7 linked regions of the Homo sapiens genome follow. The protein of the gene in region 2 interacts with the protein of the main gene of each other region in a biochemical or structural test. Each region holds a gene or a part of one and is shown on either strand. Other genes may lie near its edges. The genes, in order: SLC2A1, PDZD2, LPXN, GPRC6A, SLC34A1, ARVCF and CNTNAP4.

Region 1 (3,500 bases), on a different chromosome or scaffold from region 2:
AACAGAAGCTACAGAGGCCAGAGCAGAGCTATGCGAGAAGGCAGGAAGCCTGGGGATGGTCCTGGATTTGTTGTGTATCCAGCATTGGGCCTAAGTTTCCTCATCCGAACAAAATGATTTAAGTCCTGCAGGGTGGCTGCAAGTGTTGAGTCCACCCGCTGGGAGTGGTAATGTGGTGTGCATGTGGACGGTGCTAAGAGGCCCCATGGTCCCCTGTCTGTGCCTGCAGCACAGTCCGCCTGTGGCAGGATGCAGAACATTCCTGGGGGTGGGGTGGATTCAGGTTCTAAGGCGTGTGAGGTGCCCAGCTCAGGCTGGCACAGAGTAAGCGCTAAGCATACGGTTCTGCATATAACCATTCTTGAGGAGGCCAGGGTAGAAAATTTATGGGCTTTCCACTTGCTGCCTGTCTGGCCTTTCGGCAACCACCAAACTTTCCAAGCCCAGGTTGAGCTGTAAAATGACAGTCATGGTGCTTTCCTTGCCCAGAGGCTAAATAAACGAGTGCCTGTGTGTGAGTGCCAGGCACAGGGTTAGCACAGCGGTCACAGTCACAGGCCTGGGACTGAGGTTGATTCCTGGCTTCATCCTTTATCTGACAAGTTACTAACCTCACTGGGACTTAAGCTTCCTCCCCCATAAAATGGGAAGAACTGAACTACACCTCCAGTCGTGTGAACTGAATGAGGCAAGGCATGTTTCTGCGCCTCTATGGGGAGGACAGCACTACTTCCCGGGGTTGCTGTGAAGATGAATTGAGGCTACAGATGAAGATTGGAAAGGGTTAATATTAGGCAAAGCAATTCCTTAAGGAGGTGAGAGTTTGGGGTCTGGGACCAGAGGTGCTGCGCTGAGAATCCATCAAGCAGGGAGGAGCAAGTTCAAGAGAGGATGTGTGTGGTTTGGAAGGAGACAACTTCAGGAGCCAGAAAGTCAGACCCACAGCCAGGGAGAATGCAGCCACCAAAAGGCCTGCCAGCCTGGGGCTGAGACAGGCATTTTGGGATATGAAGCCCAGGCAAACTCTCCCGCATCCCTCACTCTCCAGAACCTAGCAACTCACCAGCAGTGCTAGCGCGATGGTCATGAGTATGGCACAACCCGCCATGCCAGCGAGGCCTATGAGGTGCAGGGTCCGCCGGCCTGCTCGCTCCACCACAAACAGCTGTGGGCAGAGACAGTGTCAGTGCCACCCCTGCCTAGTGCCCTTCTGAACCCACCCACCCAGAGGCCTTGCCTCAAGAGCTGAGAAAGTCACAGGGCACTGCAAAGACCAGTGGGGAAGATGGCACTGCCTCCTCCCTGGGGTTTGGCTGGGGGGGCCAGTAAGCAAAGACTCACCGACACGACAGTGAAGGCCGTGTTGACGATACCGGAGCCAATGGTGGCATACACAGGCTGCTGCACCCCCGCCTTCTCGAAGATGCTCGTGGAGTAATAGAAGACCTGCCAGACAAGAGAAACTGTTGGGGCCTACCTGGACATTGTGGCCCTTCCCTGCCTCTGTAGCAGTGGATGTGGGACCCAGGATGAGTAAAGAATGAAGGGGACAAATACTCAGGCAGAAGGGACACTGCACTGCAGTGACCTTACGGGCTTGGGGTCTAAAGGGAAACTTCTTCGGCAGAGGCGTATCTGTTGTTTCAAGTTTGGGACTTGTTCACCATGCACACTTGACCAGAGGGCTTGGCTGGGGCACAGGAAGGGTGGGTGGGGGCACTCACAGCGTTGATGCCAGACAGCTGCTGGGACAGCTGCAGCACCACAGCGATGAGGATGGGCTGGCGGTAGGCGGGGGAGCGGAACAGCTCCAGGATGGTGACCTTCTTCTCCCGCATCATCTGCCGACTCTCTTCCTTCATCTCCTGCAGGTCATGGGTCACGTCAGCTGTCCCGCGCAGCTTCTTTAGCACTGGGGGGACCGGAGGGAAGGTGAGGGTGGCTCAGAGTGGGAAGAAGGCCAGGGCTCAGGGAGTGGGGAGGAGGGCAGGGCCATGCCCGTACCACTCTTGGCCCGGTTCTCCTCGTTGCGGTTGATGAGCAGGAAGCGGGGACTCTCGGGGCAGAAGGGCAGCACGATGCACTGCAGCAGGGCCGGGATGAAGATGATGCTCAGCAGCAGGGGCCACAGGTCCTTGTTGCCCATGATGGAGTCCAGGCCGAACACCTGGGGGAAGCAGGGGCCGTGAGCGCCTCTGCCCTGACCCCCTTTCCCACCCCGTCCTGCCAGAGTGGCCTTCCCTACTTTGTGTCAGCTGCTGCTTCAGGGAAGGGCCCCAGTTCTAGAGGCTCTGCCACTAGCATGAGCCCTGTTTCTCAGTTTCCTCATCGGTCACATGGGAAAAGTAGGACCTACCCCACAGTGTTGCTGGGAGGACAAATGACAAGGCCACAGATGTGTCCAGCACAGAGAATGGGGGCTGCTACTCTGCCACAAGAGGGTTTTGGGGACAGGGAAGGGGAAGCCTCCTGGAGAGAGGGTACTGTGCATAACAGCCTGCGGCATGTTGGGGGAAGGCGGGCCCTGTGGTTGGAAGCCTAGAGTGAGAAGAAAGGGACTGAGAAGAGTCAAGTCATCTTGCTGTCAACTGGGAGGCCATGGTGCTGTGTTCTCTGGACCTGTGTACCATAGTTGTCCTCTGCAAGGCTGTGGGGGCTGGGCGGAAGAGAAACTCTGCCCTGCTGGGCACAGATCCGAGAGCCACTGAAGCTGTGGGCAGGGGCCGTGCCAGGCAGGTAGATCCTGCCCCAGCTTACCTGGGCGATGAGGATGCCGACGACGATGCCCAGCTGGTGCAGGGTGCCCAGGGCCCCACGAAGGGCTGTGGGTGACACTTCACCCACATACATGGGCACGAAGCCTGTGGTCAGGCCGCAGTACACACCGATGATGAAGCGGCCCAGGATCAGCATCTCAAAGGACTTGCCCAGTTTCGAGAAGCCCATGAGCACGGCGGACACGAAGGCCAGCAGGTTCATCATCAGCATTGAATTCCGCCTGGGGACGGGGTCACAGGTCAGGCCAGTGCCCACATTCCTTGGGCTCCGAGGGGCTGGGTCAGAGGTAATACCCTGGAACAGGCAGATAAGTCTCCCCTACCTCCCACCCCATCTGGGACTCCCTGGGCAGGAGGGCATGGGCCCTCCAAGGGCAGTGCCAGGACCTCTCCTACTTACCGGCCAAAGCGGTTAACGAAAAGGCCCACAGAGAAGGAGCCAATCATGCCCCCAACAGAAAAGATGGCCACTGAGAGGGACCAGAGCGTGGTGAGCGTGGTGGGCAGGATGCTCTCCCCATAGCGGTGGACCCATGTCTGGTTGTAGAACTCCTCGATCACCTGCAGGGGGAGATGCAGCCTGGGTGAGCAAGCCAGGGGCCAGGACCCAGTCTTCCTTTTCCTTTCCCCTTGCACCCCTCCCTAAGAGAGGGCCAGGGCCTGGCTCTGCCACAGATTCACTGCATGTTCTTGAGCCAAGTCCCTCTATTTTTGTGGGCCTCA
Region 2 (4,494 bases):
GTGAAAGGGACAAAAGAGTTGGTGTTTATTTTCTTCCGCCTAGGTATCCTGAGATCTCCCTAGGAGTGACAGTAGTGAGAAGGCCCCCCCGCAGTGCAAAGCTCCCTGACACCCTCTCTCCTCCCACCAGCTGCCTGGGGATGCCCGGAGGCCTCCCATGTAAGGCAGCCCAGTTCCCCACCCCCTTCCCCCTACTGAGTACACTGAGATCCAAACTTACCATCTCTCCCACCCTCCTCCCAGTACAACTCCCACTGCCTGAGCTGGCAGGTCCCAGCCAGGGAATTGACTTTGGGGTAGCCACAGCACAAAGCGTGCCCCTGCTCACGGTAGGAATACTAATTCTACACTATATGAGTGCTGCCTTTATTTTTAGCCAAGCAGGATGATGGCTGTCCTGAGGCCAGGACAACAGGGTCTGTTGTGTTAACTTGGATGATAAAGTCTAGGGCTTGTAAAGCCAAGTACTAGAGGTGTCCAAGTGTTGGTAAAAATGAGACCAGCCGGGCACAGCGGCTCACGCCTGTAATCTCAGCACCTCGGGAGGCCAAGGCAGGCGGATCACAAGATCAAGAGATCAAGACCATCCTGGCCAACATGGTGAAACCACGTCTCTACTAAAAATACAAAAATTAGCTGGGTGTGGTGGCACGCACCTGTAGTCCCAGCTACTCAGGAGGCTGAGGGAGGAGAATCACTTGAACCTGGGAGGCAGAGGTTGCAGTGAGCCAAGATCGCGCCACTGCACTCCAGGCAGGGCGACAGAGCAAGACTCCGTCTCAAAAAAAAAAAAAAAAAAAAAGAGACCAAGAGTAACCCCTCTGAAATCCATTTCGACTCCTGCTAAAACACCTCAAAGAACCAGTCTGGGGCATCACTGTGTTAAGGGCCAAATATGCCATGGACGCCCCTTCCTCAGGAAGCTGTTAAAACCATAGATCCTTAACTGGAATGAGCTAAGTTTATTCCTCCCTGAAGGCAAGAGATTGGATAATGCCCTTTCAAGGACTTGCAGATCCTTAAGAATTTGTGATTTTTTAAATCCTCCTGTGGATATCTAGGCATTTCAGGCTGCTTCTTAGACTTAAAAGACAACAAAACTTCCCCCATCTCCTTGCTATTATTTCATTCAGAGCTCGCAACAATTGTGTGTGCAAAATTAATCCTCTGTGCTGTGAAGTCGGTTCCCCCAATGCTGCTTCTCCAAAACCTCTTCAGGCCTCCTACCTAGAGGGCTTGATGAGCCCCAGAAACACTGTATATAAAAACATATAATCCAAGAATAACTTTGTCAACCAGGTGTTCAATGCTATCTGGTTTCATTCAATGGCTTCATAAAGAGAGTTGAGAATCTTAAGTTTCTGATTTTCTGGAAGTTCATAGACCACTCATTATTCACTCAGAACGCATTCTGGTAGGGAATGCATGCATGGAGCAGCCAGAACTTTCAGAATGGAGACTGTTTGCTGGCCCCATCAAGAGTGTGGGGTGAACACACTACTGGCATTGGAGAGAAGCCACGGCCGGGGGTAGGCCTCTTCCTGGAGCTGGAGAGGCTTAAAAGACAAATGTGTCTTCTCCGCATGCTTAGTGTCTTAACAAACCATCTCTCGGCTCAGCCGCCTTATCAGACCACAAAAGGCCTCTTCAACTATTAAGTTTTCAAATTGTAAATGCTCCCAGTGTCTTCTTGAACACATTTGTAAATAGAAGGCAGAACTCTTTAGCTCTCAGACAATCAGACTGAATCAGATGACCTACCTGGCTTCAAACACTCCCCGCTAGAACCCATGGGAAATGTATTCTTTTCCAATTCCATCTTTTCTCTATTTCTAAAGTATGGATAATAGGAGATCAAGATTGTCAAATTTCTAGATACCATAAAAAGATCTATCCTTTTATATGCAACCGATGCATAGGTCCAAATCTAGACATAGACCATCCGGTTGGAAAATAAGGAATAATTTCAGAAAATTTTCCAGATAATTCTATACTTTAATTTCCTTAAAAAACATTCTTCAATGCCTATAATCCCAGCACTTTGGGAGGCTGAGGTGGGTGGATCGCTTGAGCCCAGGAGTTTGATACCAGCCTGGGCAACATGGTAAAACCCCATCTCTACAAAAAATTTTTAAAAAATAATAAATTAGCCAGGTGCGGTGGTGTCTGTAGTCCCAGCTTCCCAGCTACTTGGGAGGCTGAGGTGGAAGGATCACTGGAGCCGGGGAGGTCAAGGCTGCTGTGAGCCGTGGTCATGCCACTGCAGCCTGGGTGACAGAGTGAGACCCTGTCTCAAAAAAAAAAAAAATTATTCACATTTTCCCCAATTTCATTTAATTTGGCACATATCTACTTAGTGTTTAGTAAGTCAAATGCTCCTTTTCTTTCCCGCTTCACTAATAAGTGAGACTGTTTTTTCATCTTTTCAACTATAATCAAAGACCCATTAATAAAACCAAGGGGGATTGCAGATTTTTAATTCTTCCTCAGCCACCTGCATCTTGGCCAACACCACTGCTATTGAAAGACAAGAGTTCCCCAGATCAAGCAACTGTGTTTTGTGACTCTAGTTCTGGTTGTCTAATGGGGCAAGTTCTCTGTTTTTCTGGGCCTTAGCTTCCTCAAATGCAGGTGTTACCGAGTGTGAGTGCATGATGCCCTTCCAAACCATGGAGGACAGAGGAGACTGTCCAGCCTCTTCCTGCCTTGCACCTGGTAACTGGATCTTTGCAAAAGAGAGGGACATTAAATTTAGACGCAGCACTGCAACAAGCCAATGGATTAAAAGGCAGAAATCTTGAAGGATTTGTCAAGGTGCAAACAGGGAGACCCAACTGCTCAGAGTAGTCCAAAACTTTTCATCCACAGCTGAAAGAAAGCTTCAGGCAAGTCTGCTAAAAACTCCTGCCTTCTCCATTCCACTGGGCTCTCACTGACTTTGGTGAGAGGTTTATGCATTTCTGGACACACTGTTCGAAAGGACCCCCTATACAGCAGATGCGGTCATGGAGGGCCTTCCAAACACACCTTAGTACCTCTTTCGATTCCTCCTAAGAACAACCCTGTGAAGTAGCGACTGCATCAATTTTATACATGAGCAAATGGAGGCTTCAACATTTCTAATCATCTGGCCCAGCAGGAAGTTCTCTGCACTGCTAGGATTCCAGCCAAAGCCTCTGACCCCAACTCAGGAGTCCTTCCTTTCCCTCCTGGCTGCCTCCACTGGTGCCAGGTGCCGGGTTTGCTTCCCCTGGCAGGCAGCAGTACCGCAGCCCTTTCCTCCAGGCCCCAGCTTCACGAAGTGACCCCAGGTCTCAGCAAATGCCTCCCCTGTTTTCCTCATTCTCTCCAGGGCCTCACCAACCTCTGCTTCCCTCTGGCCTTCCAGAGAAGGCAGATGCCAGGATTGTTCTTTCCCTGCACTTGCTCACCTCTTCCAGCCCAAACACCCCTGATCTAGCTTCTCTACTCTCTCCCACATCTCTTTTGTTTACCAAACATGCCTGGGAGGGAGAATGGAGGGACTCTCATGAATAAACCCTCCTTCAATGCTACAACCTCCTCAAAATACTGTGGATTATTTTCAAACAGCACACTTCTGGATCCAGTGTCTATACCTGCAGTTTCACTGTCTTGGCAATCATTGTCTCCTTCTTCCCTTGCAGCCTGGCTTCATGAACACCCCTTGCAGACACTGTTCTATCAGTGGCCTTTTCCTATCATCCTTCTGGGGATGGGCGTCTCTGAGACATCCCTGCCTCTCCACTTGTCTGCTAACCTCTCTCATGGGCTTGTCTGCATAGCTCTTCCTGTCCTTGAAACTCAACTCTGACCTCAGCATCCTCCCTGGTGCTGCGGGGATGTGTCTGAGGGCAGAAGAAAGAAGCTGAAAACTTGAGTCTCTAAGTCTGTCTTCTTAAAGAGATTCAGCCTCTCTTTGGATTTGCTCCTGACCTTTTGTGGGTTCATCTTTGGAATTTGTCCCCTTGTGGATGGTGCAGTAGGAGAGACCTTCCAACAGAGATGCCCCCACCACCATGGTCCGAGTCACTTAGGCCCACATGATCAAAGGCAAGGGGGTATCCACAGCTCTGTGTTATCTTGTTCAGCTCACCAGGCCTGGAGCCTCTGGGAGAGGGTTTCCACAACACCCTACAGTATGATCAGCCGGGGGTAGTGGGGTCTGGGGTGTTCCCTCTGCCTCTTTTCCTGTCTAACCTGAGGAAGTTGATTAGCAACTGTTCCAGGCCTTATCTGGGTATGAAAAAAATAAGGCCCTAAAGAAACACACCCAGGGCAGCATGGTGAGTGTGCTAAAGGGTTGTGTAGGAGCAGAACGAGGGGCCAGGTTGGGCGCAGTGACTCATGCCTCTAATTCCAGCACGTTGGGAGACCAAGACACCAGGATCACTTGAGCCCAGGAGTTCGAGACCAGCATAAGCAACATGGTGAAACCCATCTCCACAAAAAACACAAAAATTATCTGGTTGTGGT
Region 3 (4,494 bases), on a different chromosome or scaffold from region 2:
CTTCCACCCTGAGTTTTTGATTCAATGGGTCTGGGATGGGGCCCAAGATTTTGCATTTCTAACAAGTCCCCAGGTGATGCTGATGCTGCATAAAGCAAATGACACAAAACTGAGCTTGCCTATAGGTAGGCATTACTTGAGAAAACTGTAAGACATGCCAACTATCTGAGAAATGACCCTCATCTAGGCATCTGCTGGACAGCTGGTTTCGAGAGTGGGATAGCAGGGGAGTAACAGCCTCTGTTTCAACTTGGGTAAATCTCAGGAAAGAAATCAAAAGCAATCACCCAAACTTGCTGTGATACCCCTGCATTTCATAATCTAATAAATTAAGAAAGTTTCAGCTCTTGCTTTCTTGGAGGATCTCTTTGGGACCAATTACCTCTAGAGGAAGAATGAGAAATACTGACAATTAAAAGTGCCACAAAAAGAGGGAGAGTGTTTATACTCTGGTGAGGCTCTTAGCCACAGGGGAAATTAGGGAGCACCTGCATGACCTGGATAATGAACAATTAAAAAGAAACACAGGTAGACATTGAAGAGCTCATCCCTGTGGGAGGATGCCAAGGACCAATGACTTGAGCCTTAAAGAGGAATTCTTTGGACTGATGAAAAAATGCAGATGAATTTAATTTCCCAGGAGGCTCAGAGGTTAAACTGTCATTATAGAAACTCTTTGTGACTATCTAACTTGGGGTGAGGCAGGATGACACCTAATTAATGAACTGATCATATGGCAGGAGACCTTTTTACAGAAAGCCAGGCATAAAAAGGAAAATACAACCCAAGTGGAGCTTCTGATCAATAAATGTCACTTTTTGTCATGTGGCTCTATGTATAAATATGTTTTAAGTGTTGTTTCCTGTTTATATAAAGCCATAAATGACCCCATCAGCCCTGTCTGTTTAGAAGGGGCCTGAGTCAAGAAAATGAGAACTAGCTACCTTAATGGTGCTTTCTGGTCATCCTATGGATTGGGTATTTTTTTGTGTGTGTATCTAACTTATGTCTCTACCTGAAATGTGCCTATGTCCTGTTGTTCTGCTTTCAGGCAACTTCTCCATCATAATGATCCATAGGCAGTATTCACTTGTTGACTGTTGTACTCAACTAATTCTCAGACTTTTATGGCTACCAGTACAATATAAATTTATTGTGACACAATTTAAGATGATTTGGATTAAGTGTCAATGAAAAATGCTGCTTAGGTAAAATACCATCTAGAAATGAAATACCTAATGATTTGTGAAAAAGCATTGAGCAAGCTCCAGTGAACAAGCAAATTACTACAGAGCACTTTGCTAGTGGATTCTGTCAGCACCACTGTATCTGGGTCTATTGTCAAATAAAGCATATCGTGTTGGTACCACAAAAGTAAAGAGATCCAACAGCCGAAGAGGAATTGAATTTCAGTCAAAAGGCAGTTGTGATGTTTTATAAAAAACATGGAACTTGCAGAAATGATACCCAAGTTGAAATCTTGCCTCTTCAACTTTCTAACTGTGTGACTTTAAGAAAATCACTTTACCTACCTGAGACTCATCTATAACTAGGTAAAATGTTGAATAAACTTGCTCTCACAGACTGTGATGGCATCATATAAATTATTTTTAACCATATACATAATAATATGCCTGATATTTAGGAAAGTCTCCATATTAGTAAAAGGGCCTAAACACATGGGATTTTCTTTACTCCCTCCTGAAACATCATTAACATGACAGTTAAGAAATTATGTAAATTATAAAGAGCCATAAGGAAAGAGAAAAAAGTAAAGGATATGCCACCAGATGAGATATTAACTAAATTTTCAAGAATTTAAAGTAGATTTTAAGAGTGGTACCTGGCTTAACATAAATAAGAAAACTGGAACTTACGTCTCCACAGATGGGAGAGGCCAATAAAAATCAAGCCATCTTGAATATGATAACATCAGAGGGGCTCAGGAACTGAATGCATGAGATACTCTTCAAGGCTAGAAACAGGACTGGTTGAAAGTCTAAAGAACCATTAGAAAGTTAGATGCCTTATCTTACCGTAAGATGCAATGATTATTTCTGTAAATATTGAACAAGAGAGTCTCAGTGATCAGAGATGTTGGACACCATGAGGAAACGAGTCAAGCTCTCTACTGAAAAATGGGAATTAAGTAAAAGTTGACATGCTGAATGGTGAAAAGCCCATTCCCCCATCCCCTTTTTCAATCTCAGAATTCTGGCAAAGAGAACATCTCTTTAGCATAATTGACTCAACAGAAAAGACCTAAGATTGTCATATTCAGGAGTCACTCAACAAAATGGCCAGAGTATCTTACCTGAGTACCATATAGTCAAGTCTACCAGTCAACAATTTCTGTCTATATCCATGGAGTTTGCAATTAGCATTTTAGTGTCTCATTCTTAAATAGTAACAGACAACCATGGATCAGCAGTATTGGGAAAGACCAGTGTAAACAAATGTAAGGCACCAAGATGTAATATATATCAAATTCCAAATTGAACTGCAAAACATCCCTCCAAACAGGTAGTCAAAGATTACTTGTACAATTCTGGAATTCCTCACTCTTGTTCAGGAGAAAACAGGTAAAGAAAAAGGAAAACTGAGAGAAGGATTCCTTTGAAGAAAACTGTGCTATGAGTGCCCCATCACCACCAAGAAAGATGAGGTATAGTTCTTGATAACCTCAGGTTAAAAGAGGGACTTCACTGGGACGACTCAGAGAGTTGGATATGTGTGCCTTGGCATTAGTGAGATGCAGTTAGTGGTATCAGAGTTACCCCTGGAAAAAGTCCATAGATGAGTCTGGCTGAAAGAGCCTATGGCAGCTGAATAGAAACATGCAGCTAAAAATTATAACTCCACTGGCTGTCAGAGAAAAGAGTAAGTTATCCATGGTCCTTCTATGAAAATATGAGAGGAAGAGATTATCTGGAACGATGTTAATAATTTCTAAGGGTTCACTAGGAGGGAACAATGAAAGCCCCTTGAAAAAAGAATCTTTACAAAACAAATCCTCAAAGAAACATGACAAGGAGAGAATAGCTAGTCAAGACACGTAAAGGGCAATCAAGAGTTCACTGCTGGACCTGTCTTAATCCCGAAAAGAATTCAGGGAAAAAAGTCAGAGCTAAACACTGGCTGAGCCTGGAGAGCATAAAGCCAATTTAACAACAATCCTAGACAAGTTAGACCTTCCTGCCTTCTATTCTCATCTCCATCCTCCCTAGTGTTTCAACCCTAGAGCAGGCAGGTGTCAAGGCTGGCAATAAGGGTGAGGGTGGTAGATAACAAAGCGAGGTCAGGAGAGAGGAAAGGCCATACCCCTGTCCTCGCCTCCTGCAGCTTGAAGGTCCTAAAAAAGAGAGGGAGTGGCTGTCACTTTTAAAGTGCTGGAAGCCTTAACTATTACACAGACTGAATTACCTAATGGCTTAGTTTTTGTGTTTTGTTTCTTAAATTGATTTTATATTTAGAACTGTTTTTTAACAGTAATCAGAAAAGACAGAGGACTGCACAAGCTTTTATTTATGAGAGGAGAAATCCTTCCCCACTGAGTTCATTCTAAAAGGACAGGAGAAAAACAAAGTAAAGCAGCTTTCTGATTCCATATTTGTTCAAAACAAACATAAAAAGGAGAAATTAAAAAAAACAAGACAATTCAGAAAACACATGAAACAAACATACAAAGGGGGAAGAATGGGTCATGTAGAAAGGATCAAGGATAAAAAAAATTTAATAAAAACTTGCCAATCATGGAAGCTAGAAGACAGTGAAGCAATGTCTTCAGAATTATGAAGGAAAATAGTTTCCACTTAGAATTCTATGCCCAGGCAACTTAAGGGCAATGACAGAATAAAAATATTTTCAGATATTCAAGTTCTCAAAAATTCTTTCTCAGAAAGCTACTAGGGGATGTTCCCCACCAAAATAAAGGTGGTAACATGTATAAAACATAGACATGGGACCCAGGAAACAGAGCATCCAAAGAGGAAACTAATAAAAGGAATTTCCAAGAGTAATTACTAGATATAATTCTAAGTTAATGAACCAGAATGACTGCTACTCAGCAGGAAGAAATCATTTCATGTTGAATCAGGAGGAGGAAAGTCTCCTGGAGGGATATCTCCAGAAAAAAAAAAAAGAAAAGAAAGAAACTGACTTGTTGCCAGATGTAGTTGGCCATTTTGAAAAGAATTTCACAGTTCTGTTGCATAACTTAGTGATAAGTACAATAAAAACTAAGCCAATTTCAAAAAGGATTCAAATGTTAACTTTAGAAAAAAATGAATTTATACCAAAAGGACACTGTGATAATAATATTAACACTACTATACCTCCATGTGCTTGGCACTATTCTAAATACCACGCTTGTATTGTCTCTAAATCCTCATAACAACCCTATAAGGTAGGCAATTTCATTAGGACTATTTTACTGATGAGGAAAGTAAGGTACAGAGATGTTAAATGACTTGAACAAATACCACAACCCAGATT
Region 4 (4,494 bases), on a different chromosome or scaffold from region 2:
ACACCTGGGATCTAACTCTGGTTCCATCTCTCATCAATGCAAGTACAATTACTTTCTATCTGATTATCTCCAATGGTTCTTAAGTTTGTTTCAATGATTGAGTATGTAGTAAAGTGATCTCTAAATTATATTTCTAAGCTAATTCACAAAATGATTTATTTTTTAACTTGAGAAGAAAGAAATATAAGGATAAATTACCTGTCTTGCTACCTAATTTGCACAGTGAGAGCTTGTATACTATAGAGTTAGGACAAAAAATATTTTGTTTACAAATGGGATAGCCATACTGAGGTTGTGCTGTAGTGGAAGAACAATAGGCTGGAATGTAGGGAAACAGGCTGCTGTTCTGGCTTCACCATTAACTTAATATATAAGTATGTCAAGTAAATATCCTCTCTGAATGCTTTCATAATGGCCCATTTATTATCTAAATCTATGGTTCTGTGTGGCTTTTGTTGGGTATAAAATCTATAGAATAAGGCAGAAATTATTCTATTTGAAGACAATTATTCTATTCTATTTCTTTTGAGTTAACTTTTTATGAGTGTTTCAATTTTTTGTCAATAGAATATAAAAAATAAGTTATATTTTCAAGTAAATAGATTAGCTATGATGGTAACATCAATGAGAAATGTTACTTTAGCAGAATGTCTACGTGTGTGTATTTATGTCCCCACAGATGTCTTAGCTCTTTTAATGAATATCAATTAATTAGTGTTACTTTAAAGAAGCAGGATATCAGATCTAACATGGTGGAATTCACTAACAAAATTTTATTCTAGCAATTGCCTGGAAGAAAAAAAAGAGGAGAGAACAAAAATAAAAGAATATGCAAGGGCCTACCTCCAATGTTCTCACTTCTATCTGTTGACTGGTTTGTTTCTTCTGTTCTTTCCTTAAGCAATATACACATGTAAACCCCAGTAACTCAGTTCTTTAGGGAGCACATCCTCTTCCACACAAGTGTTTGAACTATAATTTCTACCTCTTTTTTCCTGTGCTTAATTAGGCTTTATAGGCTAAAGTTCTCACATGTATTTGTTCTGTAAATAATCATAAAATTGTATAATGTAAATAAACTTCCACAATTTTATGCTTGCTCTTACAGGAAACAGGGTGGAAGCAAATACAACAGTATTTTCATTACTCATTAAATATAATAAAACATTTGCTTTGAAGTAAGGTTAATCTTAAACATTACCACTCCAGTTATTAAGCTGTTAACTGCTTTTTCATATCATTTAAAAAAATTTTCATGGAGACTCTGAAATTCACTATCAATTGACACTACAAAATTTAGAGAATGGGATTTGCATTTCAATTATTATCTTATTCACCTGTGTATGATAATGCCTAGTTTTTAAGCACACATGGCCAGGAATCACACCAATTAAAGTGATATGGTTGATATTGTTTTTCATTGTCCTAACTGTGCTGATGCTTGCTCTACCTCATTAAGTAAGGTTACTGTGGAAAGAGGTATCTTCATGGCTAAGTTAGAGAAGAGCAGAGGAAACATCCTTGCCTCTGTGTCCTGATGCCCAGACGATACCTTCTTTTGTGAAGCAGAAAACACATTGATCTAAGGCTGGGGCAGCAGTTTCATTGCTAACTGTGTGAATCACCACGGGACAGGTCTTTACTGTTAAGGTTCCCTCCATCTCTAAACTCTGACAAGTCTTGGTCACTAGAAACACTTCTTCTTACTACTTCTTCAAGATGGAATTTAAGGAAGATGAGTCCTGTCGGCCTACCATATTTTATAAAGATTAGAGGTGGTGTATATCAGTACCTAGAACCATATGTTTTAAAAATTATTAGTTACTATTATCTTACCATGCCAAAATTACTCTCATGTCTCTCTTGACTTCTGGACTAATATGCAACTACCTTGCTACACTTACAATACATGTCTCATAAATTCATCAAATTCAACATCTCCAAAATGGAATGCTAAATATTTCTTACTCCCACCAGACCTCCACTTTTCTCTATGTTTCCAGCTTGACAAATGACACCAGTTGTCCAATATTGGAATCATCTGCAACATTTTTGATGCTCTCTGTCATCATTTACATCCAATTGATCTCCAAATATTCTTCATCCTCCCTCTTAAATATCCATATATACATCTTTTCATCCTTATTTTCATACCTGTAGGCATTCTTATCTTATGTCTGATTTACCAAATTGGTGTTTCTTCCTTCAGTCTTGTGTCCCTCTAATCAATTCACCTTGGATGGAAAAAATATCATATCACTCTTCTGCCTGAAAATGTCTTTAATTAGCTGCCCTATCCTCTGTCAAGTTCAAACCTTTGAACATAGTTTGCAACATTTCCATTTAAGGGGGAGTCTCTATACTAGCAGTATCAGCATCATCTGGGACATTGTTAAAAATGTAGACTTTTCAATCCCACTGTGGAACCACTGAATTAACATGATAATAAGATTCCCAGGAAAGTCAACTGCACATCAAAGTTTGAGATGCCCTGATGGACAAGGCTCTAATAATATGTCTTTCACTCACTCATTCAGTTAGTCCATTACAGCTCTCATGCAAGACTCCAGTCATATGCCATGATTTCCTGCTTCCTAAAGATGCTGTGCTTTCTTTTCTCCCTTTTCTGGGACTTTGCTGGAATATTTCTGTTCTGGCTAACTGCTACCCTTCCTTGCATTCACATAGAGGTCATGTTTTTTGGAGAATGTTCTCTGAATTGTTAATACTGGATTAGCTGTCTCACTTATGTACTTCTCTGCCATCTTGTGTTTATGTGAAACACTGTAGTGTACCATCCTTCATTGTAATCAGCCCCTTACTTGTTTGATTGTATATATCAATGGACAGATAATTCCTTTAGGGAAGGAATTCTGTCCTGTTCTCCGTAATATCTTCACCACTCAACACACTGCCTGAAACATTGAGACACCAAACATTTGCTAAATAAATATATGAATAGAAGTTCAACTATTAGGCATTCTTTCTTTTCTCATACATCACTTACTACCTTATATATCATCAGAAGTAAAGGAAAACAAACAAACAAAAAAACCGAAATCTCTAGTCACAGCAAGGAGGTGGTATCCTCCACACACATCTGAGGAACATTAAAAATCTGCTGAAGTAAAACAAGCACGACTGTGGTGTCCCTGAGTATGGCTCACAAATATGACCACATATAGGGCCAAAATAAGTGCTATCCTCAAACACTGGGAAAAATTAACCCCTTTAAAATTATTTGCATCTAAAATCATTTAGAAAGTGCTATTTAAATATTAGTGAATTTTGCTAGGGTACAAAGTAATCCTTAAGAATGTATCATTGACTAGGGACCCTAAATGTTGCTGATCTTTAAAGTTTAAGTCTACAGAGATTTCTTTATAAAAGGATAACTCTTTGTATTGTTTGTCTTACTGACTCTAGCACTGACTTGATGTGGCTCACTCACGTCTTGATCAAAGGAGCAAGTCATCCCCCTGTTCTTCCTTTCTAATCTGTTTCTGTTTGTTTCTAGATTAACAGGCTCTGAGGGCAAAAAGAATGACTCCAGGCTCCTAGTGTTTAAATAAAACATTTTAGGAGACTCTGCTTAGATAATTTCTTCTCAAATCTTATCCTTGAAGTGTTTGAGACTTATTCCTAATTTAAAATACTTTCTCTATTTTTCCCCAGATCTTCAGGGGGTGAATAACTCTTGCTATTTGCATTTCTTTGTCCTTATGAGGTTCTTTATATAACCATCCCCCGCTCCACTTTATGTCATCTGTCTCCACAACTGTTCTCTATTTCTCTTTCTCAATCTCTTATTTCTAAAATTCTATGTGGTGGTATTATTACTGTAGTCTAATTTTAAAAATTAAAACAGTTTTTCTGCAGTGCACCAGGCCAAAAGCCTTGAAATATATTAGAAAACATTGTACTGAACTTGGAATATAGTGAATAATGATGATCTAAAAAAGATAATTTATGGTTTTTACCACCATCATTAAAGTTTTATACTACAAAGAGAATGCTTTCATATAGGTGTCTTAAAGTCATCAGACATAACTATATATATATTAAAAGAGTGTTTGCAATTGAGAAAAGGTCCTAATCTCTAGTTTTACCTCCTTATTAGATTTTTGGCTTTGTATTCATAAGGTGAAAAGTAGTTTAAAAGTGAGCAATTTAAAATACCCTCCCACCATTGCATGATCCTCCCAAATGTTAACTGGTCATATCAGACCTCGAATATGGTAGTTTTGGGTGTTTAAAGTAAAAAAAAAAATGACAAAAGTAGAAAAAACTTGTTCTAGATACCCACTTGTATGATCAGAAGAATTGTCTCATTTCTTTTACCTTCTTTTCTCTTACAAATTTAAAACTTATATATTTTGTAACATGATTCTGCCTCAGGACATACAAGTTTGCCTTTGAATACATATTATTGAGACATTTATTTCTAATAAGTAAAACATCATTATTAAAAGAAGCAATTTACTTTTCAATGCC
Region 5 (3,452 bases), about 150 Mb from region 2:
CTGGCCGAGGGTGACGGCGTGCTGGACGCACGCACCAAGGGGCTGGACGCGCGCGCCGTGTGCGTGGGCCGTGCGCCGCGCGCGCTCCTGGTGCTAATGGGCCGACGCGGCGTACATGGGGGCATCCTCAACAAGACGGTGCACGAACTCATACGCGGGCTGCGCATGCAGGGCGCCTAGCCGGCCAGCCAGGCCGCCCACTGGTAGCGCGGGCCAAATAAACTGTGACCTGGGCGCGGCTGGCTCCTCCTCCACTTGCGCGGTGGGGGGAGTTGTAAATAAGGAAACTGGTCTTTGCAAGACGGTTACCTGGTGGAGCCGGGATTTTGAGTCTAGAGGCTGCCAGGCCCCTGTGCCCTACACCCTGCTCTCCCATGGACGCCTTGCAGAGGCTCCTGGCCTGACTGCTGCTCCTTGGCGCGTTCCCAGGGTCCTAGGGACTCCGCAGCTGAGGAAGAGTCCAAGGGTGGGGGCTTCTCAAAGTCTGTTTCAGCCTTAGCGTCCTTTCTCAGAGATATTCCCACACATTAGGCAGGACAAGTAAAGGGAGCCCCCTCCCCATCCCGCGAACACCTCTCCCCATCAGGGTGTCAGGCTGGAGGCCAATTTGCTCCTCCCCCCTCCACTCATACCTCAAGCACTAGCAAGTTGTGAGTGGGTGACAGGATGGGCTTGGTGGCTTGTAAAGCAGTTCTGGGGCTCACAGGCCTCTGCATCTCTGCCCACATTCCTCCAAGGGGAGCCTACTGAGAGGGCTCATGTCCAAGACCATCGCAATTGGGTTTGAGACCTTACATCCTGCCTTCCCCAGGCCTTCGAAAAGGCCCCGCAGGAGTCCCTGGACTAGAGGGAGGAACTCTGGCATCCCTACCCGGGAGTCTCACTCTGCAGGCCTCAGTTTCAGGGTGACCTATGGAGGAGGGGGAATTGAAAAGCTTGGGTAAGTTTGAGGCCTGGTTTATTGCCCAAAGATAGTGGACAAAAGTGGGAGGGAGGGTGTCTGGTCCCTGCCCTCCATGTGCTGGGGCCCAGGGCATGGCCTCTCTTGCCCACCCCCACCCTTCCCGTCCCCTCCCCCAGCGGCCCTGATGGCAGACCCCACCTGTCACTTATTCTGGAGCCCTGATCTTATCCCAGCAGGAAGGAGTGATGTGTGGCTGAGGTGGGTGAATTTAGAGGGCAGAGGGAGACCAGAGGAAGTTCAGCCAGGTGGGGGTCAGGGGGTGGGGGTGCAGAATCCTCCTTACACTTGCCTTGGGGGTGGCCCCAGGCCTAGGAGGGGCTTCCAGGGAGTTTGAATTGTGGTTTGGACTCACTAAGGTAGGGCCAGGCAGATGGTTGGGGTGAGCCTGCAGGGCTGGCTTCTCTGGAACTGCACCTGGCCTGGGCAGGGCAGGCTGCTCTTGCAGCCAGTCTTTGAGGGGAGATGGTGCTGCTGAACCCCCTGGCTTGGTCTTCCCTTTGCCATTGATGGAGAGCAAAAAGACTTCCGAATGCCTGAGGAGAGTTTTAATTCCTTTGTTTTTTTTCCATCAGGCAAGTGTTGGGAAGGGAATTAATTGTGGTGGTGCCGAAGACCTGGGTTAGGATGAGGAGATGGTATCTTGGAGGAAGGAAGGTGGCAAGGAGGTGTGCAAATTCAGTAACGCAGGCACCAACATCTATGCACAAACAGCTGCACAGTCATATACCCAGACCCACCCTTACTCCTGCCTATCCTAGTCATGTGTACACGTGCAGAGGACCTGAAATCATACCCAGATATCCTGCAGCCTGCACACAGCCTCCCACAGGTGTGTCTGTGTACACCTGCATGGGCTGGCACACCTGTACACAAATACAAGCTTCTACACATGACAGGTGCACATGCAGACTCACCCCCACACATGCACACACACCGACACTCTCACACAAGCCCAGAGCTTTGCGGAGCTACAGAAGGAGAGACTGGCACCCAGGGTGGCACAGGCACATGCACATACCTACACACACCCTCCCTCCCCTGCCTTTCCACCCCAGGCCTTCCCCATTCCAGGCTGTAGTCTGGGCCCACAGCCTAGAGGCGGGTGGCATTGTGGTGAGCAGGCAGTGCAAGACGGGGGGAGGGTGTGGCAGGGGGTAGCTCCTCCAGGAAGACCCTGGGGGGCAGCGGGGGTGAGCGGGGCTCAGGCCTGGCACAGCATAGGGTGGCGCGGGTGATGAGGTGGTCCAGGGGCTTCAGGGAGTGCATCCAGCGAGGCAGGAAGTCCCATGTCTGTAACCACTTGGGCAGGTGCCCGGGACTCCGACTCTGCAGGACATTGATGAGCACCACGAAGGCCAGCAGGGCCCCGAAGGGCGTGCCCACACCTACCATGACCTGCCAGCCTGCCATGGAGATGCCAAACACCAGTGAGGGCAGCAGCAGGAAGCAGACAAGGAGATAGAGGACGGCAAACCAGCGGTACTTGGCCGTGCGTTTCCCCAGCGCCTTGGCCATGCGGATGGGCAGGCGTGTGCAGGGCACCGGGTACCACAGAAGGATACCCGAGATGTTGAAGAAGAAGTGACAGAGGGCAATCTGCAGGGGATGAGGCAGAGGGGCTGAGATGGGCACTGGCTCCCAGGTCCTGTGTCAGGCCAGCAGGGGTAGATGATAGGAACCCCGATCTGGTCTGGGCAGCAGGAAAGTTTCCACTTAGGGGTGATGTGCCCCCTGCCCCGAGATCACCCCGAGGTGGCTATGCTGGCTATGCAAATATTGAAATACTTCTAGACCAGTTGGTAAATAACTACTGCCCTGAGCTCCCCACATTTTCCCCACTGACCCCTCGCACAGGAATCCCCCAGCAGATACTGCCAAAATCCAGCAGCTAAAGGATTGATGTCAGTTTCTGGACCCTCATTCAGTCAGTGCCTTGGCTTGTCAGTTACTCCTTTGCTCCTAGAATAATTCCCCTTTGCCATTTGCGGCCTTGACCCCCGCAATGGATTCCCCAAACTGCTCCAGGCCCTCTTTTGTAGTGCCTCTTCCTCTTCCTCTTCCTTATGGTGCAAATCCGACTCACTGCTATTTATTGGTGTAATTATGAGCAGTGTCTCCCTATTAGATGCTAAGGTCTCGAGGGTGGTATTGGGTCTACTTTGCCCATAATGGTTTCATTGAGCATATTAGGTGGCCCTTAGTAGGCAGTCAAAATATTTGTTCCATGTTGTCACACCTTTGTGAGGCCCCACACCCCAGAGGCAGCTCCATCCTGCCCCAGGCGAGGCTACACTCCCAGCGCACCTGGAAAGCGCTGGACAGCTTCTCCCTGGGGCTGGCCAGGGCAGCCAGGATGGCCGTGGTGGTGGTGCCGATGTTGGAACCCAGTGTGAGCGGGTAGGCCCTCTCAATGCTGATCACACCAAGACCTGGGGACAGAGGGAGAGGAAGTGGGACCCCCAGCGTCTCCTTCGGCCCTTTCCCTGCC
Region 6 (4,494 bases), on a different chromosome or scaffold from region 2:
CAACACTACTGAATTGTACACTTGAAAATGGTTAAGATAGTAAATTTTGTTATGTGTATTCTACCATAATTAAAAATTAAAATTAAAAAAGAGGCTCCCTGGCCAGGCGTGGTGGCTCACGCCTGTAATCTCAGCACTTTGGGAGGCCAAGGCGGGCGGATCACGAGGTCAGGAGATCGAGACCATCCTGGCTAACATGGTGAAACCCCGTCTCTACTAAAAGTACAAAAAAAATTAGCCGGGTGTGGCGGTGAGCGCCTGTAGTTCCAGCTACTTGGGAGGCTGAGGCAGGAGAATGGTGTGAACCCAGGAGGCGGAGCTTGCAGTGAGCCGAGATCGCGCCACTGCACTCCAGCCTGGGCGGTAGAGCGTGACTCTGTCTCAAAAAAAAAAAAGAGGCTCCCTCACATAATAAGTAAGAAATTGCATAATACCCTTTTATTTATTTATTTTTTGAGACGGAGTCTTGCCCTGTCGCCAGGCTAGAGTGCAGTGGCGCGATCTCGGCTCACTGCAACTTCCGCCTCCTGGGTTCAAGTGATTCTCCTGCCTCAGCCTCCCGAGTAGCTGGGACTACAGGCGCGTGCCACCATGCCTAGCTAATTTTTGTATTTTTAGTAGAGACGGGGTTTCACCATGTTGACCAGGATGGTCTTGATCTCTTGACCTCGTGATCTGCCTGCCTCAGCCTCCCAAAGTGCTGGGATTACAAGCATGAGCCACCGCGCCTGGCCTACCCTTTTGAAATAAATAGTATATCAAAGGTAAAAATTTAAGGCTGGGTGCAGTGGCTCACACCTGTAATCCCAGCACTTTGGGAGGCCAAGGCAAGTGGATTGCTGGGGCCCAGAAGTTCGAGACCAACCTGGGCAACATGGCACAACCCTGTCTGTACAAAAAATACAAAAATTAGCCAGGCATGGCCGGGAGCGGTGGCTCACACCTGTAATCCCAGCACTTTGGGAGGCCGAGGCGGGAGGATCACCTGAGGTCAGGAGTTCGACACCAGCCTGGACATGGTGAAATCCCATCTCTATTAAAAAAAAAAATTTAAAAATTAGCTGGTGATGGTGGCAGGCACCTGTAATCCCAGCTACTCGGGAGGTTGAGGCAGGAGAATTGCTTGAACGTGGGAGGTGAAGGTTGCAGTGAGCCAAGAATGCGCCACTGCACCCCAGTCTGGGTGACAGAGCGAGACTCCGTCTCAAAACAAACAAACAAAAAGGAAACAGTTCAGATGCAGCTGTAAAAACAAAGTTAAATCCTTGCCGTCCATTTACATCAGAATAAATACTAGTTTGTGCTATGGGCTGAACGTGTCCCCCAAAGTTCACGTGTTGGAAACTTAATTCCCAACGCAACAGTGTTGAAGGTAGGACCTCTAAGAGGTGTTTAGGTCACAAGGGCTCTGCTACATGAATGGATTAATTCCGTTACAGTGGGAGTGGATTTGTTATCTCGGGAGCAGGTTACTGATAAAAGGATGGGTTCCGCCTCCTTCAGCGCTCTCTCACGTGTGCTCCTGCCCTTCTGCCACCTCCTGGGGGATGTAGCGACAAAGAAGGCCCTCGCCAGATGTGGCCCCTCAATCCTGGACTTCCCCATCTCCAAAATTGTTAGAAATAAGTCTTTGTTTTTCAGGAATTAGCCAGTCTCAGGTATTCTGATACAGCAGCCCAAAATGGACTAAGACAGACAGATTAAATGCTGTGTACAAAACTAAAGTAAAAATACCTTCTAGAAGAAAAGACAGGTGCATCTTTATCTGGCTGCATGCTAGGGAGAGTTGACTACACAGAGAGACGGAATATCTAAAAATGGGGAAAAATCCAACACACTTCACCACAAAATATGAAACATTTTTGACATCAAAATGATCATAAACAAAAACTAAAAGGGTGAGAAAAATGTGCAGTAGGCAGAAAGAGGAGTGAAGAATTAATATCTTTAATATACAAAGACTCATACAATGGCTGAGAAACACATCAAAACCCAAGAGAAGGCCTGTCATAGGGGCCAGGCGGCCGCAGGAGACGAAGCCGCAACCCCCTGCAGGCACACGGCGGCTGATGGAGGAGGCCAGGCTGGTGCTGGTCTCTGAGAGGACACCACTGCTGGCCAGCTATGGGAAACGGCAGGGCATCTGTGTCCCCGCCAGCCCTTCTCACTCAGGCCTGGTCTCAGCACGCACCACCCCATCACACCCTCCCAGCTCCCCCTCCTAAGGGAGCCATGCTACTCATCACCATCTTGTAACCCCACAGTTGGCCACTGGTTCCTCTGTGTGTTGTGGATCTCCTCAACCAGGCTGGGAGCTCCTCAGGGGCAGGGCTGGGCCTGATGTGCCTGTGATGCCCAGGACCCAGCATGAGGCTGGGTGAGTGGGTGCTGAGTGTGGTGACACATGGGTGTTTACATCAGCCCCTGTCCCAGCTGAGCCCTGAGGCTCCCTCCCCAGCTGCCTCCCGCTGTGGACAGGACCACACCCCAGGGCCCAGCAGAGCAGGCAGCCGCAAGCCAGAGCCCAGGTTGCCCAAGCCAGAGCAGAGATGGCACAAATGCCATCACCCATCGCACCAGTGCCCAGGGCAGACATGAAAAACCAATCACCACAGCAGACAGGAATAAGCAATCACCACATTCCAGATGGGCAGGATAGGAGATGGGGAAAGGCAGAGAAAGAGGCACAGAGAGGGCCACAGAGAAACATAGAGAAGACCAAGAACTGGAGGGGGGAGGGAAAAGAAGGGACAAGAAAGGAGCAAGCAACAGGAGGGAGAGTGAGCAAGTGTGCCTGGGCAGCCTCGGACCTGCCCAGCCAACCACCCTCCTGCGGACCCTGTTACCAGGGCTGTCGTTTGGTGTCTGGCTGACCTGGCCTCCCTGAAGTGTGGTGACCTACGAGGAGTTAAGGGCAGTGGGACAGCCCCTCCTGCCACCCTGAGATGCCCTGTCACCTGTGCCACAAGCAAGCCAAGTACCCTGCCTGAGCTTCTTTGTCCCAACCCAGAAGACCCTGCATGGCCAAATGGCCTGAGCAGTGACATTCTCGGCCAGACGCTGGTCCTCCCACACAGCCAGGCGGCAGCAGACCCAGCTCCCACTAGGCTGGCCCGGCCGGCAGCTTTCCATGCCCAAGGACTTGGGAACAGGCAAGGAGTCAGTCATCCTGTCCCTCCCATCTGCCCTAGATCCCTCAGCCTAGGTCACTCAGGCATCCGGAGGCCATGGCCTTCTCCCTACCACTTAGGCACAGCACTGGCTGGGCCATGCCTCCACAATGGGCACTAATTGTCACTGAGAAACCACAGGGCTGTCAGCCATGCCTCCCACAGAGACTGCTTTTTGGGGGGACAGGCAGATGGCCAGGGTGGGGACTGGAGGAACAAGAATGGCCAGGAGCCATTCTCTTAAGCCATCACCCACTCTGCTGAACAGCACCCATCGTGGCAAAACTCTGGCAGCGTGGATGTGAGCAGGGTATGCCTTACCATCCTTCAGAGGGTCCTGGGGGACATGGACCACTCAGCCTCCAACCCTGCCATGCTTCCCAGGCGCTATGCCTCAGTCCCACTGGAGCTAGCAGCCATGATAAGCAGAGGAACCCCAAACACAGATAACACCTGAGGCCACGGGCCAGTACACATGGCCTACGGCTGTGATCAGAGTACATTCAGACTATTCAGTTATGGGCTGTCTGCAGCCATTTTCATCCTACAATGGCAGAGAACTGCAGCTGTGACAGAGACCATAAGGCCTGCAAAATTGAATTACTTACTATCAGACCTTTTCAAACAAAGTTTTGTGTGCCTGGCCTCCAGGACTATCCTCTGTCCCTGTGGCTCCAGTCTCTGGGGGGCAAGCGAATGGCCTGGCCCAGCAGGCTGTGCCAATACTGGATGCCACTGCGGCTGGCATCCTAGCTCAGGCAGGTGAAGAGCAGACCCAGTGAATGTCCAAACCAACACTGACCAGCAACCTCGTCAGCCAGCCCCAAACAGGCTTGTCCCTAAAGCCAGACATCAAACCAGTGGCTGCTGCCCATATTCAGGCCAGTAACAAACCCAAGCTGGTGGCAGGAGGCCCTCACATCCACCCTGTCCAGCCCAGGGGCTGTGCCTACCCAGGGTGAGAAGGACCAGGAGCACACAGTGTCCAGGGCCAGTCCATCCCTGTCACCCCCACCCGCCAGGCCCACCAGAACACTCTGCTGTCCTATGTGGGAGAGGATGTCCCCAAGCTAAACCCAGGCCACTCACCTGTCTTGAGGGAAGATCAGCATGTCCCGACACCCACCCTGCAGGCTCTGGCTCCTGCAGGGAAACCAGAGGGCATGAGTGAGGTCAATCCAGCTGGGTAGGTCCCTGCCGGATAAAGGTACACAAGCCCAGACCGTCCTCTAAGCAGGACCTTGTCATGCCTGATCTGAAGGTCATCCCGTGGTGCTCCTGACTCATAACCACACACTCATGTGTACCTTCTTGCCCCCACATG
Region 7 (4,494 bases), on a different chromosome or scaffold from region 2:
AACAATGAAATATAGCTGCAAGGCAAAACTTGCTTTTTCTTAAAATCTGTACCTTTGGTGAAATATAACAGTACATTATGTCAAGCTTACCTAAAACTACAATAATATGTGTAGTAGGTAAAATATTGTATGATATAAAATGGAGTGAATCAGGGTCACAGGGAGCAGTGAGGAAGGAAGAGGGAACAGCTGCCTTACCAGCCATCTCAGCCAAATCAACCCTGGCCATCGCTAACACGACAGATGTCACAGCCAGATCATCCTCATATCCAGGAAAATGAAAAAGGAAAATGATCACAGGAGGCTCGATTTTGCTAACTCAGAAAAACAGAGAACTTCCTGACATCTTCTCTAGAGAATGTTTCAGTGATTAATGGTACTACCTACATACTTTCATGCTAATCTGGTTCATGTTGCAATTATACATAAATATAAAGAAACTATCCCACAGGCAAGCACATAGCAAAGCTTCCAAGAAACCAATGTGATCATTTACAAAGAGAACAGGTTAAAAAAATGAATCAGGCTGTTTTGCGTGTTAAGCGTAGCAAATTATGGTGATCACAATTTTATTTTTAGTAGCTAAAATTCTACATTAGCCTCCTTTTTCCATTCCCCTAGTATGTATTTGACCATGAAATGTTTTGTTTTATCATGTTTCATTTTGTGATAAAGGATGCTAGGAGTTTAAGAAACTAAATGTTATCTACAGTGTTTGCTCTTTGCTTTCTTAAATGTACCCTAGTTCTTTCCTCAAATTATTGCTATTTTTTGTATATTTGTTTTAGAAAAGCTTACATCTTTTGATACTTAAGAGGTAGTGTTATGAAGCTGTATGTGAGCATGAAGTTTTCTTAACAGGATTGTGACACAGTTGTCATGTTAAAGTACAGCAGTTCAAATAAGCACAGAAATCATACACACTATGAAACAAAAGAGCCTAATTGAGCAGCTTTACAACCTTGCATAGAATTCCCTCATCACCAATTTAGATAGAATTGCTTTTATTTTAGCAATGTTCTTTTAATTAAGTCCTAAACATCTAAAACATGGCAAATGTAAATATGTATTATAAATCCTTAATTATGAGGATCACTAAGCATTCTTGCAGCTTTCTGCCTTGGACATAAATTCTTTTTGTTTAAAATCAGCCAAAATTGAGAGATAAAAGTGAAAGATGTGAAAAAATGTTCAACTTTGTTTATCATGCCCTTCTCTTGCCACCCGTATCACTTTACCGCATTGTCTTCAGGAGTTAAATTATGCTTCAATTTATCTAGTGATTTTTAAGCCAAAATCTCTCCCAACATATTCTGCTTCATTGCTAGGTTCAGAAAGACTAGCACCCACGGTGGGAGAAGAAGTTGAGTTAACTACTGGGGATCCTGAGGTCTTTACACCGAGTCCTAGAAAATAAAGATCTTTGAGATCGCAAAAGGGTAATATCACTTCTCTGTTTGGGTGAATTTAAACTAGAGCCAAGAAGACCTCTTGCTAATTTTTAATCCCACATACTGGTTTAAAAGCATACTGGAGACTACTCTGGTATGGATAGCAAATATGAAGCAATCTTATTCTACATCCCATCACTATTTAATTCAAAATGTGCCACCTAGGGGCAATGCTTTCTATTTCCCCTACCAAAATGGTCTGTTTTCCAATTCCCACCCACAGTTATCTTCACACACACACACACACACACACACACACACACACACACACACACTGATAATTCTATCTCAGCAACTCATTTCCCTTAAAGACCACTTTCAATCTAGTTCCTTTTTTGTCCTTGGTCAGTCGTCAGCTGACCAGCAGATTTTAAAATACCAATACATAGTATCTTTGAATACTGAAGACAAGTCTTAAAGATATAAATCTACATGCACTCTTTTAGAGCAAAGCTATTAGCCTAGAAATTTGACTTTCTCAGATTTTCCAAGAAATCCCTCTATTGGGCCTGGTATAGCAAAGGCAATTGCTTTATATTGATGGGAAAATGTGGGGGTCTCTGTGGTGGGCCAAGGGAATCAAATGTCTGTTCAAGGTCATCCAAGCAACTATCAACCCTAAGGCTTACAACCAATTGCTAGGAGAGTTTATCCGTGTCCTTATTCAAAGGACATTGAAAAAAATACTTCCGTAGGTCATAATTGCAGAGTAAGTCCATTAATGAAATTACAGGTTATAATTTTTCTAAAAAGTATACAATAAACGTAATTTAGGAAGGCAGGTGAATTTATATATTTACATGGTGCTTTTAAAGTAATATCAACCTATGACCCCATTTATAAGTATCATAATTGCCAGTGGGAAGAAAATGGTTACAGAAACTAATATGTCTTTTACGATTTAGAAGCCCATAATATCTTATTCTAGAGCACTGCCAAGTAATGAGAGGTACTTAATAAAAAAAGCAATTAGAGCTATAGGCCAACTGATAATATCACACCATTTTTTTCCGTTGTGATTTAAAAACCTTGGAGATAAATTTCATCACTGCTCTATTAAATACTTATGGCATTAAAAAATTTTATAGTTACTAATTTTGAACTACTTAAAATGTCAAATGTTTTCAGGCTTCACTCACTTCTCCAATTATTACATTGGAATGACTCATTAACTGTAACATAAACAGGCTCATTTTTACCTGCTGTTATGCTATTTTCCCAGTTTTATTACTAGAGTACCACTTTTCCATGAACCATAATGAAAATTCACTGGAAGGAGGGGAAAAAAAACACCCAAGCATATCCACTTCCTCTTCCAAATACCAATGTTCCATGGGCAAACTGAAGCAATAATGATAACTTGTAATGCGTTTGGCATGTACATTCTTTATCATTACACAGTTCTGTAGTTTTTCACTAACTACAGAACTATGTAACTGTAGTTAGTAACTATGAACTAACTATGAAGACCCTAACAAAAGACGTTTTGGAAAAAATCTTTGTCCTCCAAAAGTCAATTAAGAAACAAAAGTATCTTTGCTTGTGCAATTATATGTCAGATTGGTCTTTACCAACACAGAGCCATCAGCCCCCTGAAGTAATCAGCACTTTGGAGAGCCTAAAAATCATAGATTAAAAACAAGGAAAGCCAGTTTCAAAAGTCAAATAAATGCATGCATACACATACAGGCATGCATATTTAATTGCAATACACAGACAATCACAGCTTAAGAGCTCATGGAAGAAATTTAAGTGTTAAACTCTTAGACATCAAAATTTTCCCCAAAAATATAAGAAGACAATTCAACAGTCAATGACATTTTTGTTATTTAGAGATACAATTTGTTGTAACTTAAAATTATGGGTAAACTACTATTTCTTAAGATTTTAAACCCTGTTTTTAAAACCCTGAATCCTTCCAATTCCAATGTTAATCTTCTGGGTAAACTACTTCATTTCAGTGTTTTCAGTTAATCACAGGGTCTCCAAAACTCTGTAATTTTTGTCTGCATGAGGTTTGGGGCATTTCTTTCACTTTCTGAGATTTTTCTTTTTAAAGTGATCAAAATCAAACTGATATTAGCATTTGATGCTACAACTCAAGACCTGTTCTTGAAAATCTGTTAAAGAGTATTCCTAAATATTCCTAACTGAAATACCCATGAAAACAATCATCCATACATTTTATAAGAATTTGCATGCCACCACCACCCACAACATAGGAACATCATGCAACAATATAGGAAACATCTCCTATTTAAGCACATACACTGTGATGGGTCAACCCTTCCCTATCATACTAGTTAATTTGAAAAATATAATTTCAATGATTATAGATAAATTCTAAAGTTGAGGTCAAAATTATTGAATGAATAAAAATGAAAAATAAGCTATAAATAATAATTGAAACACTAGAGCATGGAAGACAATCAGGTCAAAGTCTGCATGATTTAATATTTCATCAGATATATTCAACTAACAATCTGAACATGCACATAACAATGTTGGATGCATTTTTCTTACTCTTCCTACTGTTTTCAGGAGCTAGATCATTCTGTAAACTTTCAGTCAGTGAAAACAAAATGAAAATATTTTTTAAAGGATAGTGAAGGACTTCTTTTGTTTGTTTAACTTTTATTTTTTAAGTTCAGGGGTACAAGTGCAGGTTTGTTACATAAGTAAACTTGTGTCATGGGGGTTTGTTGTATAGATTATTTCAACACTCAGGTATTAAGCCTAGTACCCATTAGTTATTGTTCCTTATTCTCTCTCTCCTCCCACTCTCCATCCTCCAAAAAGCCCCAGTGTGTGTTGTTTCCCTCTATGTGTCCATGTGTTCTCATCATTTAGCTCCCACTTATAAGTGAGAACATGCAGTATTTGGTTTTCTGTTCCCTTGTTAGTTTGCCAAGAATAGTGGTCTCCAGCACCATCCATGGCACTACAAAGTATGTGATCTCATTCTATTTTGTGACTACGTAGTATTCCACGGTGTATATGTACCAGTTTTCTTTATCCAGTCTATCACTAATGGGCACTTAGG

Evidence for each region.
Region 1: the proteins of PDZD2 (region 2) and SLC2A1 interact in a test that uses a peptide from one of them, tested with the Homo sapiens proteins (one large-scale study listed by IntAct).
Region 3: the proteins of PDZD2 (region 2) and LPXN interact in a test that uses a peptide from one of them, tested with the Homo sapiens proteins (one large-scale study listed by IntAct).
Region 4: the proteins of PDZD2 (region 2) and GPRC6A interact in a test that uses a peptide from one of them, tested with the Homo sapiens proteins (one large-scale study listed by IntAct).
Region 5: the proteins of PDZD2 (region 2) and SLC34A1 interact in a test that uses a peptide from one of them, tested with the Homo sapiens proteins (one large-scale study listed by IntAct).
Region 6: the proteins of PDZD2 (region 2) and ARVCF interact in a test that uses a peptide from one of them, tested with the Homo sapiens proteins (one large-scale study listed by IntAct).
Region 7: the proteins of PDZD2 (region 2) and CNTNAP4 interact in a test that uses a peptide from one of them, tested with the Homo sapiens proteins (one large-scale study listed by IntAct).

The regions. Positions count from the first base shown.
Region 1 is NC_000001.11:42,927,869-42,931,368, forward strand, and holds part of SLC2A1 (solute carrier family 2, facilitated glucose transporter member 1), read right to left. Parts: intron 3,339-3,500; coding exon 3,178-3,338; intron 2,999-3,177; coding exon 2,758-2,998; intron 2,168-2,757; coding exon 2,005-2,167; intron 1,913-2,004; coding exon 1,725-1,912; intron 1,447-1,724; coding exon 1,342-1,446; intron 1,166-1,341; coding exon 1,064-1,165; intron 1-1,063. UniProt on the Homo sapiens protein: Facilitative glucose transporter, which is responsible for constitutive or basal glucose uptake. Has a very broad substrate specificity; can transport a wide range of aldoses including both pentoses and hexoses.
Region 2 is NC_000005.10:31,641,642-31,646,135, reverse strand, and holds part of PDZD2 (PDZ domain-containing protein 2), read right to left. Parts: intron 1-4,494.
Region 3 is NC_000011.10:58,544,318-58,548,811, forward strand, and holds part of LPXN (leupaxin), read right to left. Parts: intron 1-4,494. UniProt on the Homo sapiens protein: Transcriptional coactivator for androgen receptor (AR) and serum response factor (SRF). Contributes to the regulation of cell adhesion, spreading and cell migration and acts as a negative regulator in integrin-mediated cell adhesion events.
Region 4 is NC_000006.12:116,801,104-116,805,597, forward strand, and holds part of GPRC6A (G-protein coupled receptor family C group 6 member A isoform 1 precursor), read right to left. Parts: intron 1-4,494. UniProt on the Homo sapiens protein: Receptor activated by multiple ligands, including osteocalcin (BGLAP), basic amino acids, and various cations. Activated by amino acids with a preference for basic amino acids such as L-Lys, L-Arg and L-ornithine but also by small and polar amino acids.
Region 5 is NC_000005.10:177,396,891-177,400,342, reverse strand, and holds the end of SLC34A1 (sodium-dependent phosphate transport protein 2A), read right to left. Parts: intron 3,394-3,452; coding exon 3,269-3,393; intron 2,561-3,268; coding exon 2,057-2,560; 3' UTR 1,495-2,056; downstream 1-1,494. Other genes in the region: PFN3 (profilin-3), read left to right, coding at 1-180.
Region 6 is NC_000022.11:20,006,196-20,010,689, forward strand, and holds part of ARVCF (splicing regulator ARVCF), read right to left. Parts: intron 4,314-4,494; 5' UTR 4,260-4,313; intron 1-4,259. UniProt on the Homo sapiens protein: Contributes to the regulation of alternative splicing of pre-mRNAs.
Region 7 is NC_000016.10:76,283,407-76,287,900, reverse strand, and holds part of CNTNAP4 (contactin-associated protein-like 4 isoform 1 precursor), read right to left. Parts: intron 1-4,494. UniProt on the Homo sapiens protein: Presynaptic protein involved in both dopaminergic synaptic transmission and GABAergic system, thereby participating in the structural maturation of inhibitory interneuron synapses.